Homo sapiens: one gene and its partner. The protein of the gene in region 2 interacts with the protein of the main gene of each other region in a biochemical or structural test. Each region holds a gene or a part of one and is shown on either strand. Other genes may lie near its edges.

Region 1 (3,655 bases), on a different chromosome or scaffold from region 2:
CTAAATCATGCTCTTTTTTTTTTTTTTTTTTTTTGGTGCATACGAATCCCTCCGAGGTCTTGTTAAAATGTGGATTCTGATTCAGTAGGGCAATACGTTCCACACTTTGAGTAATATAGCTCTAAATTACATTGGAGGTCAACGCCAAATTGAGATTTTAAACTCAAAATGATTCTTTCAACTGTTTTAAAAGGTGAAGGGGAGTGGTTGTGAGAAATTTTAATAGAAGTTAAAAATCTTAGTGTTATGACCATTTTGTGGAGCTTTCACCATCAAAACTATAATCAGATTATGTGAAGATTCTAAGACTTTTTTGGTCTTAAAAAGGTATAAAAGATGTTGAAACAGAAGATCTTGAGGATAAGATGGAAACTTCTGACATACAGATTTTCTACCAAGAAGATCCAGAATGCCAGAATCTTAGTGAGAATTCATGTCCACCTTCAGGTACCTGGTATTGTTTGTCCTTTTCCATAATGGTGCTCTTCTGGTATTTGGTGTGGGGGCTTGTTTTGCAGTACCCAAAGTCACAGCCTTGTGAAAAGTTTTGTAAGGAAAATTAAGAAAGTAAAGAGAATTTATGTTACAATAGATACTTTTTCTATATTTAGAATGCCATTCTCTCCTAGTTCTTCCACTATCTTTTTTTCTTCTTTTACTATCTTTTTTTTCTTCTTCTACCACTAAGAAAGTATGGGCGTGTCTATATTGGAAATGCAAATAGAGTCTTCACCAAAACCCAATGTCTATGAATTCCCAAATCAACCTTGCTTTCTAAATAAATACTACTTCTATTTCTGAGTCACTTGCTCAATTTCCTTTTAGGATCCCTGGGCTGCCCTGCAAGTTGATGAAGTTAGTGTGCTACCCAAATGCGCCTGGCTGAGAGGTTGAGTAGGGGCTGAGATCCAGCCTGTGTCGTTTGCAACACAGTGCACTGAGGGGCTGTGTCCTCCAAGAGGAGCTCCCTTTTGTCATTTACACAAAGGCACTGTATAAGTTAGCTGTGGCCCTGTGAGGCCCCCTTATGCTTCTCAAAGCATATTTTCTTGATGGTTTTATGAGACCGGCAAGTTGCATAATATGCCATAATAAAAAGTTATGTATAAAAGAGTATCAGGAAGGAAATTGGGATTAATAGTGGTGGTAGAAGAAAAATGATATTAGAATAACATCATAAAGAGAAAATGTGCAGATTACGTCTGCAACTGAATGTTACAAGTTTTTTTGTTTTGTTTTGTTTTTTTGGTCATTTCAGAATAAAATCTGTTACCCCTTGGAAAAAAAAAACAGATACATGAATATGAGTTGCTTTAAATTTTCTGACACGTGAAGATTCTTGCATGCCTTTTGTTGTTGTTGTTGTTATTGTTTTTTGAGACTGAGTCTCTCGCTCTGTTGCTCAGGCTGGCGTGCAGTGGCACAATCTCAGCTCACTGCAACCTTGGGTTCAAGTGATTCTCCTGCCTCAGTCTCCCAAGTAGCTGGGACCACAGGCATGTGCCACCACATCTGGTTAATTTTTGTATTTTTTTTGGAGAGGTGGGGATTTCAGCATGTCGGCCAGGCTGTTCTTGAACTCCTGACCTCAAGTGATCCATCCACCTCAGCCTCCCAAGTGCTGGGATTACAGGCATGAGCCACTGCACCTGGCCTTTACATGTCTTTCGTGTGAGTTTAATTCACTTAACCTTTTAGAAATTCTCCCTTTCTCTAAAATGGGTAGGTTAGACTCAGTAGATAATTTCCAAAGTCTTTGCTAGCTCTTAATGATTTATATGCCTACCTGTTATTGAGATAAAGCCTTTGATTATTTTTTAAAACTTCTGGTTATGTTGAGAGAAAATATCATTTGAGAACTTGAAGAACGACAAAGCATTATTGCTCCTTAATAAGAAATTGCTTTGAGAATCCAATGTTAACAGTTTGGTTTTCTTCAAAGATCGTGGGAGGATTTGTTGCTTTTTTCACATACAGCATTGCCTTTAGTAGACAGCTTGTCTTACCCTGAATGGGGCCATTCTTTCTTTGGTTTCTGTTAGCCTTCCATGATTGTATAAAAAATAATTCATGTTTTTTTTTTTTTCTTTCTTGCCATCAATACTTTGTCACTGAGAGAATTCTGTACTTCAAATTAGTGGAAAAGCTAGAATGGTTACCAAGAGAAAGGATTCTAAACTTTCTCCAATGAGGATCTTCTTGCTGGAGTCAGAATTTGTGGACATTAGACTGTAGCTATTGCCGTGATTCCTCAGAGCAGGAACTGTTTGGTAATTTTGCTCCTTTTGTATTCCAGAAGTGTCTGATACAAACTTGTACAGCCCATTTAAACCAAGAAATTACCAATTAGAGCTTGCTTTGCCTGCTATGAAAGGAAAAAACACAATAATATGTGCTCCTACAGGTAAGCCTATTGCCATTACTTACATAGTTTTTCTGTTTGCTTCCTTTTTTTTCTTTTGTTGAATACTGGGACAGAATGGGCAAGTTTCAGTTTTTTCCTTGTTCCATGTGTCTTTTGAGAAAACTGTCCTAATATAATCCTAATGTTTTTTATGGGATTATGTAATTAATTAATTATGTACATTAATGTATTTAATGTATTTTCTTTACCTTTCATGAGAAGGTAAAGAAAAGTGTCCTCTTTTAGCTTGCTTTTGGGTCCTGGCTGTTGGCATGCTACTTAGGGAGCAGCTTGATATTTTTTAGTCATAGTGTAAATTCTGTAATCATTAACATATTTAAATTATCAATTAATTAGTCAGCTCAGTGGTATTAGAAGAGCCAAAAATAAACACCTTTCCAGAGAAATATCTAATATATGAGTTACATGTTTTCTTTTTTCCTTACATGTTAAAAGGTTGTGGAAAAACCTTTGTTTCACTGCTTATATGTGAACATCATCTTAAAAAATTCCCACAAGGACAAAAGGGGAAAGTTGTCTTTTTTGCGAATCAGATCCCAGTGTATGAACAGCAGAAATCTGTATTCTCAAAATACTTTGAAAGACATGGGTAGGTATAATAGTTGCTTCAACTTCTTTTTCTCCAGCTTCATGTAATTGATGTGTTTTCTGTTTTGTTTTTGACAAATGATTTAAAAAAATTTATATTAGATTCAGCTTTTTTATAATCCAGATGTTATCCCTTCATGGATTCAAGTCTTTTTTGTTAGATGTACCAGAAAACTTAAACTCCCCTGGTTTGCCCTTCTATGGGGAGTAAATGACTTCAGGAATAAATTTGATGTTTACGTGGCACATTTAACTTCTTTAGTGATTTTATAATTTATTTGATATTATTCTTTTACGTACTCTTTTCTCTCTTAGTGACTTAAAATAATATATAGTACTATAAATTACAACTAGCTTGGATTTATTGATCTCTTACTATGTGTCAGGCTCTGTGCTAAGGACTTGCCTACAGCTATTCTTCTTTTGGACTCAGGGAGAATTTAATCAGTTGATGTTCTGATCTAGCATTTCATCTTTGTGGTTCCTTATCCACATCGTGGTTAGTAATATGGAATTTCTGTCATTTCCCAGGTATAGAGTTACAGGCATTTCTGGAGCAACAGCTGAGAATGTCCCAGTGGAACAGATTGTTGAGAACAATGACATCATCATTTTAACTCCACAGATTCTTGTGAACAACCT
Region 2 (3,563 bases):
AAGGAGTTTGCATCCAGCCTCTGGGCTTCCACAGATATGATCTCCCAAATATTATAAAACGGTGCCTTAGAACAAACCAGTAGTGAGCTTTTACTATAATCTGCACTACTTTATCTCACCATAGACACCCAAGCTGAGCCTTGATAACAAATCAGTGTTTCATCAAACCATGAAGGAGCTTCAAGTGCCCAACAGACTGAGGACTAACGGCAGGGGCCAGAGTCTGCAGAATCATTCTCTGGTCATGAGCCCTTTCTATGATCTTCCAAATTTCTACACTTCTAGATATGTTGAGATCTTCTTTTCTCTGTCATTACCTTCCATAAAAATGCCTCAGGGCAGCTGGGAAGGTGCAGGTTCTGTAGAGATAAACATATGTGCCTTGAAACCTCCTCTGTATCCTGAGTCCATAGGCTTTTACACTAGGGCTCACTTAGGGACAGAAATTTCATTATAGGATCTACTCCAGAGTTGTCCAATAGAAATACAATGTAAGCCACATATGTAATTTTAAGGTTTCTAGTATCCACATTAAAAAAGTAAAATGAAACAGGTAAAATGAATAACATACTTTATTTAATCCAATAGAGCCAACATATTATCATTGCAATACACAAAGGAAAAGTTATTAGTGAGATATTTTACATTATTTTTTGAAGTAGGTATTTGAAATCTGGTATATATTTTATACATTGAGCACATCTCAATTCAGACTAGGCATGTATGAAGTACTCAACAGACATTGGTGGCTCCTGGATACCATATGGGACAGCCAGTGCCATTCTCATCCTTGATATTTGTTTCTACCCTCACATGTACCTCTTAATTTCTTTTATAGCTGGTTCAAAAAACATATTGCACCTCTCTACCAAAGTCATAGCAGCTCACTCAACAGCTGTTTGTTCCTGCGCATAAAGAGAGTGTGGAAAAGCTGGAAGAAATCATCCTCTTCCTTTAAGTGCTTTATATTGTTCATATTTTCTCTTTGTGTTTTCTTTCTATTCTGAGAGAAAAATATGTATTGGATTGTTTTTCTCTCCCCACTACTCTTTTGTTTTTACTGCAATTAATTTGAAAGACGTATTTTTTTTTATTGTTCTATTGCTACTCTTAAATGTAGAGAGGAAGGCCAAAGGTTGTAGTGAAGATTGTAGTGAAGACTCTCTTCAATTTGAGTTTGAAGCTACCCAAATTATCATTATAATGGTTTGGTTTTAGAGCTCAATCCTATACATACTTATACAAAAACAAAGTAATTTATTTGCTTATTATTGCATTTTATAGAACCTGGCAAAGATATTACAAGAATGTAAAAATACAGGCCAATTTCTTTCATTAACATAGATGAGAACAAAATCTAAACAATACGTTATCAAAATAAATCCAGTATTGCATACAACAAATAATAATGGTGTATTTCAGCAAGTTGTGGTAACAAATTGAAGTAAATCAATGTACTAAGCCACATTAACAGAACAAAAATGATACACAATTGTCTCAATAATTTACAGAAAAGACATAGGTAGAATACGAGTTTTCATTTTATACAAAAACTTGTAGTAAATTAACAGATCAGAACTTCCTAAATTTGATCCCCTGCATCAATCAAAAAAAACCTGCATCAAATACTATGCTTAATGGCAAAATACTGAAAGCGCCCCCTATCCACCTCAAGACCTGTCATCAGTCAAAGATGCTTACTCTCACCACTGGGTGCATCCTAGTACTGAGTAACTGTTTAAAACGAAAGAACTGTCTGGGCGCGGCGGCTCACATCTGTAATCCCAGCACTTTGGGAGACCGAGGCGGGTGGATCACTTGCGGTCAGGAGTTCGAGATCAGCCTGGCCAACACGGTGAAACCCTATCTCTATAAAAATACAAAAATTAGTTGGGCATGGTGGTGGGTGCCTGTAATCCCAGCTACTTGGGATGCTGAGGCAGGAGGTTCGCTTGAACCCAGGAGGCAGAGGTTGCAGTGAGCCGAGATTGCGCCAGTGCACTCCAGCCTGGGCGACAGAGCGAGATTCCATCTCAAAAAAGATTCAAAAACCAAAAAACAACAAAAGAATTGAGAACACAGAAAAACAGAAGATCAGAAGGGAGAATCACATGCTGATAAGCCTCAGGGTACTTATCAGAAGTGGGTGGGAACAGAAGAATATTCAAGAGCTTGGACGACGCAGGGTCATAGGAATTACACAGTTGCAAGGATTAAAATATGGACAAAGAGTAGTGGGAAAGTAATATTTAGAGAAAGTGTAGATGGGGAAGCCATGGTTTGTGACATTATAAAAGGAGACAGTACCAGCCTCATAATCTAAGAAAACCCCAACACGGCGAGGGGGCACTGTCATGGAGAGAAGCAGGGAAGGGGAAGAATCCTCATAGGCCCTATATTCATGGTTATGCTGTAACCCAATCACCCAGTATCCACTCTGAGGCTGATACCTGGAGTAAGCACTGTGATTTTGAGCAAAATGGTTGAAAGAGAATGTAGGTCCCAGTGAATTGCTGCATACCCCCAGGATCCAGGCAGTCTTCTTGGCCACATCTACCTCCCAGTAATGCTTACCAGAGGAGAAGTGCTGGGAGCCCAGGACACTACAGTCATAATGCTTTTCCAGACAGGAAGGTCCAGATACTTTAGCTCCCACAAACCTCACTTGTCTCCGGTTTTTAGCCAGGACAAGATTTAAATTAGCTGTGTGTGGATTCAGGGTCACGTCAACTGTAGGAAAAGGTACAACATCAGCAGATGAGAACGGGGACATGGGTCTCGTTATGCTGAGAAGAGGAAACACAGGAAGTGGTTGGAGGAACTGGAACTATATGGCGGGGATGGGGGAGGCATCAACACCTAGGATCTGTGTGGCTATGTCTGGGGAGGGCATGTGAAAGGAGATCAGAATGTGCCAGCCCAAAGAGGCCATGGCTTCTACTTACCCCAGTAGCTTTGGACATCTGTCAGCTCTGTAATGATGAAAAGAGTCAATAATGTTGAATAGGACCAACTGTCTCATGTCTGGTATCTCTCTCCTTACTACATTGAGGGGAATGGTGAGGAATCCTGTGAGGATGTCACCTGGCCATTTCATCTCCCCTTAAATACAAACCGCATCTTCTTCAGCACACTATGTCCCTCCCTCTGGGACCTCCCTCTTTGCCACTATGCTCAAATACCGACTATAGCCTCTATCCCGTTTATTTCTTCCCACGACAGTAATTTCACATCCAAACTCTTTCCCCTGAATCTCCTTACCTCTACACACTCGCAGCATCCTTTTCAGATCTGGGGCTCGGAACATACTTCTCAGCTTTGTAGGGAGAGCTTCTGGCTTCCTCAGGGTCCAGAACTCACTCCTAGAAAGGACAGGACTTCTGAGTTCCCACACTGCTGACTGTGGGTTCCTCCACCACCCATCTCCCTTACCTCCCAAGCCTACTGATGAATTCCAATCCTCCTTTCTGAATACACTTAGCATCATTCTGCAAACAGCCCTGGCACTGGAGCCAGAAGAGCTAGACTAGAAACTATCATCTCACCATCTACATAAACTTGTG

What was found. The genes of interacting proteins can lie anywhere in the genome.
Region 1: the proteins of TRIM6 (region 2) and RIGI form a complex in vitro, tested with the Homo sapiens proteins (one study listed by BioGRID).

The regions. Positions count from the first base shown.
Region 1 is NC_000009.12:32,488,093-32,491,747, reverse strand, and holds part of RIGI (antiviral innate immune response receptor RIG-I), read left to right. Parts: intron 1-327; coding exon 328-447; intron 448-2,296; coding exon 2,297-2,404; intron 2,405-2,860; coding exon 2,861-3,014; intron 3,015-3,544; coding exon 3,545-3,655.
Region 2 is NC_000011.10:5,609,944-5,613,506, reverse strand, and holds the end of TRIM6 (tripartite motif-containing protein 6), read right to left. Parts: intron 3,363-3,563; coding exon 3,262-3,362; intron 2,973-3,261; coding exon 2,946-2,972; intron 2,731-2,945; coding exon 2,165-2,730; 3' UTR 555-2,164; downstream 1-554. Other genes in the region: TRIM6-TRIM34 (tripartite motif-containing 6 and tripartite motif-containing 34), read right to left, coding at 2,946-2,972, 3,262-3,362.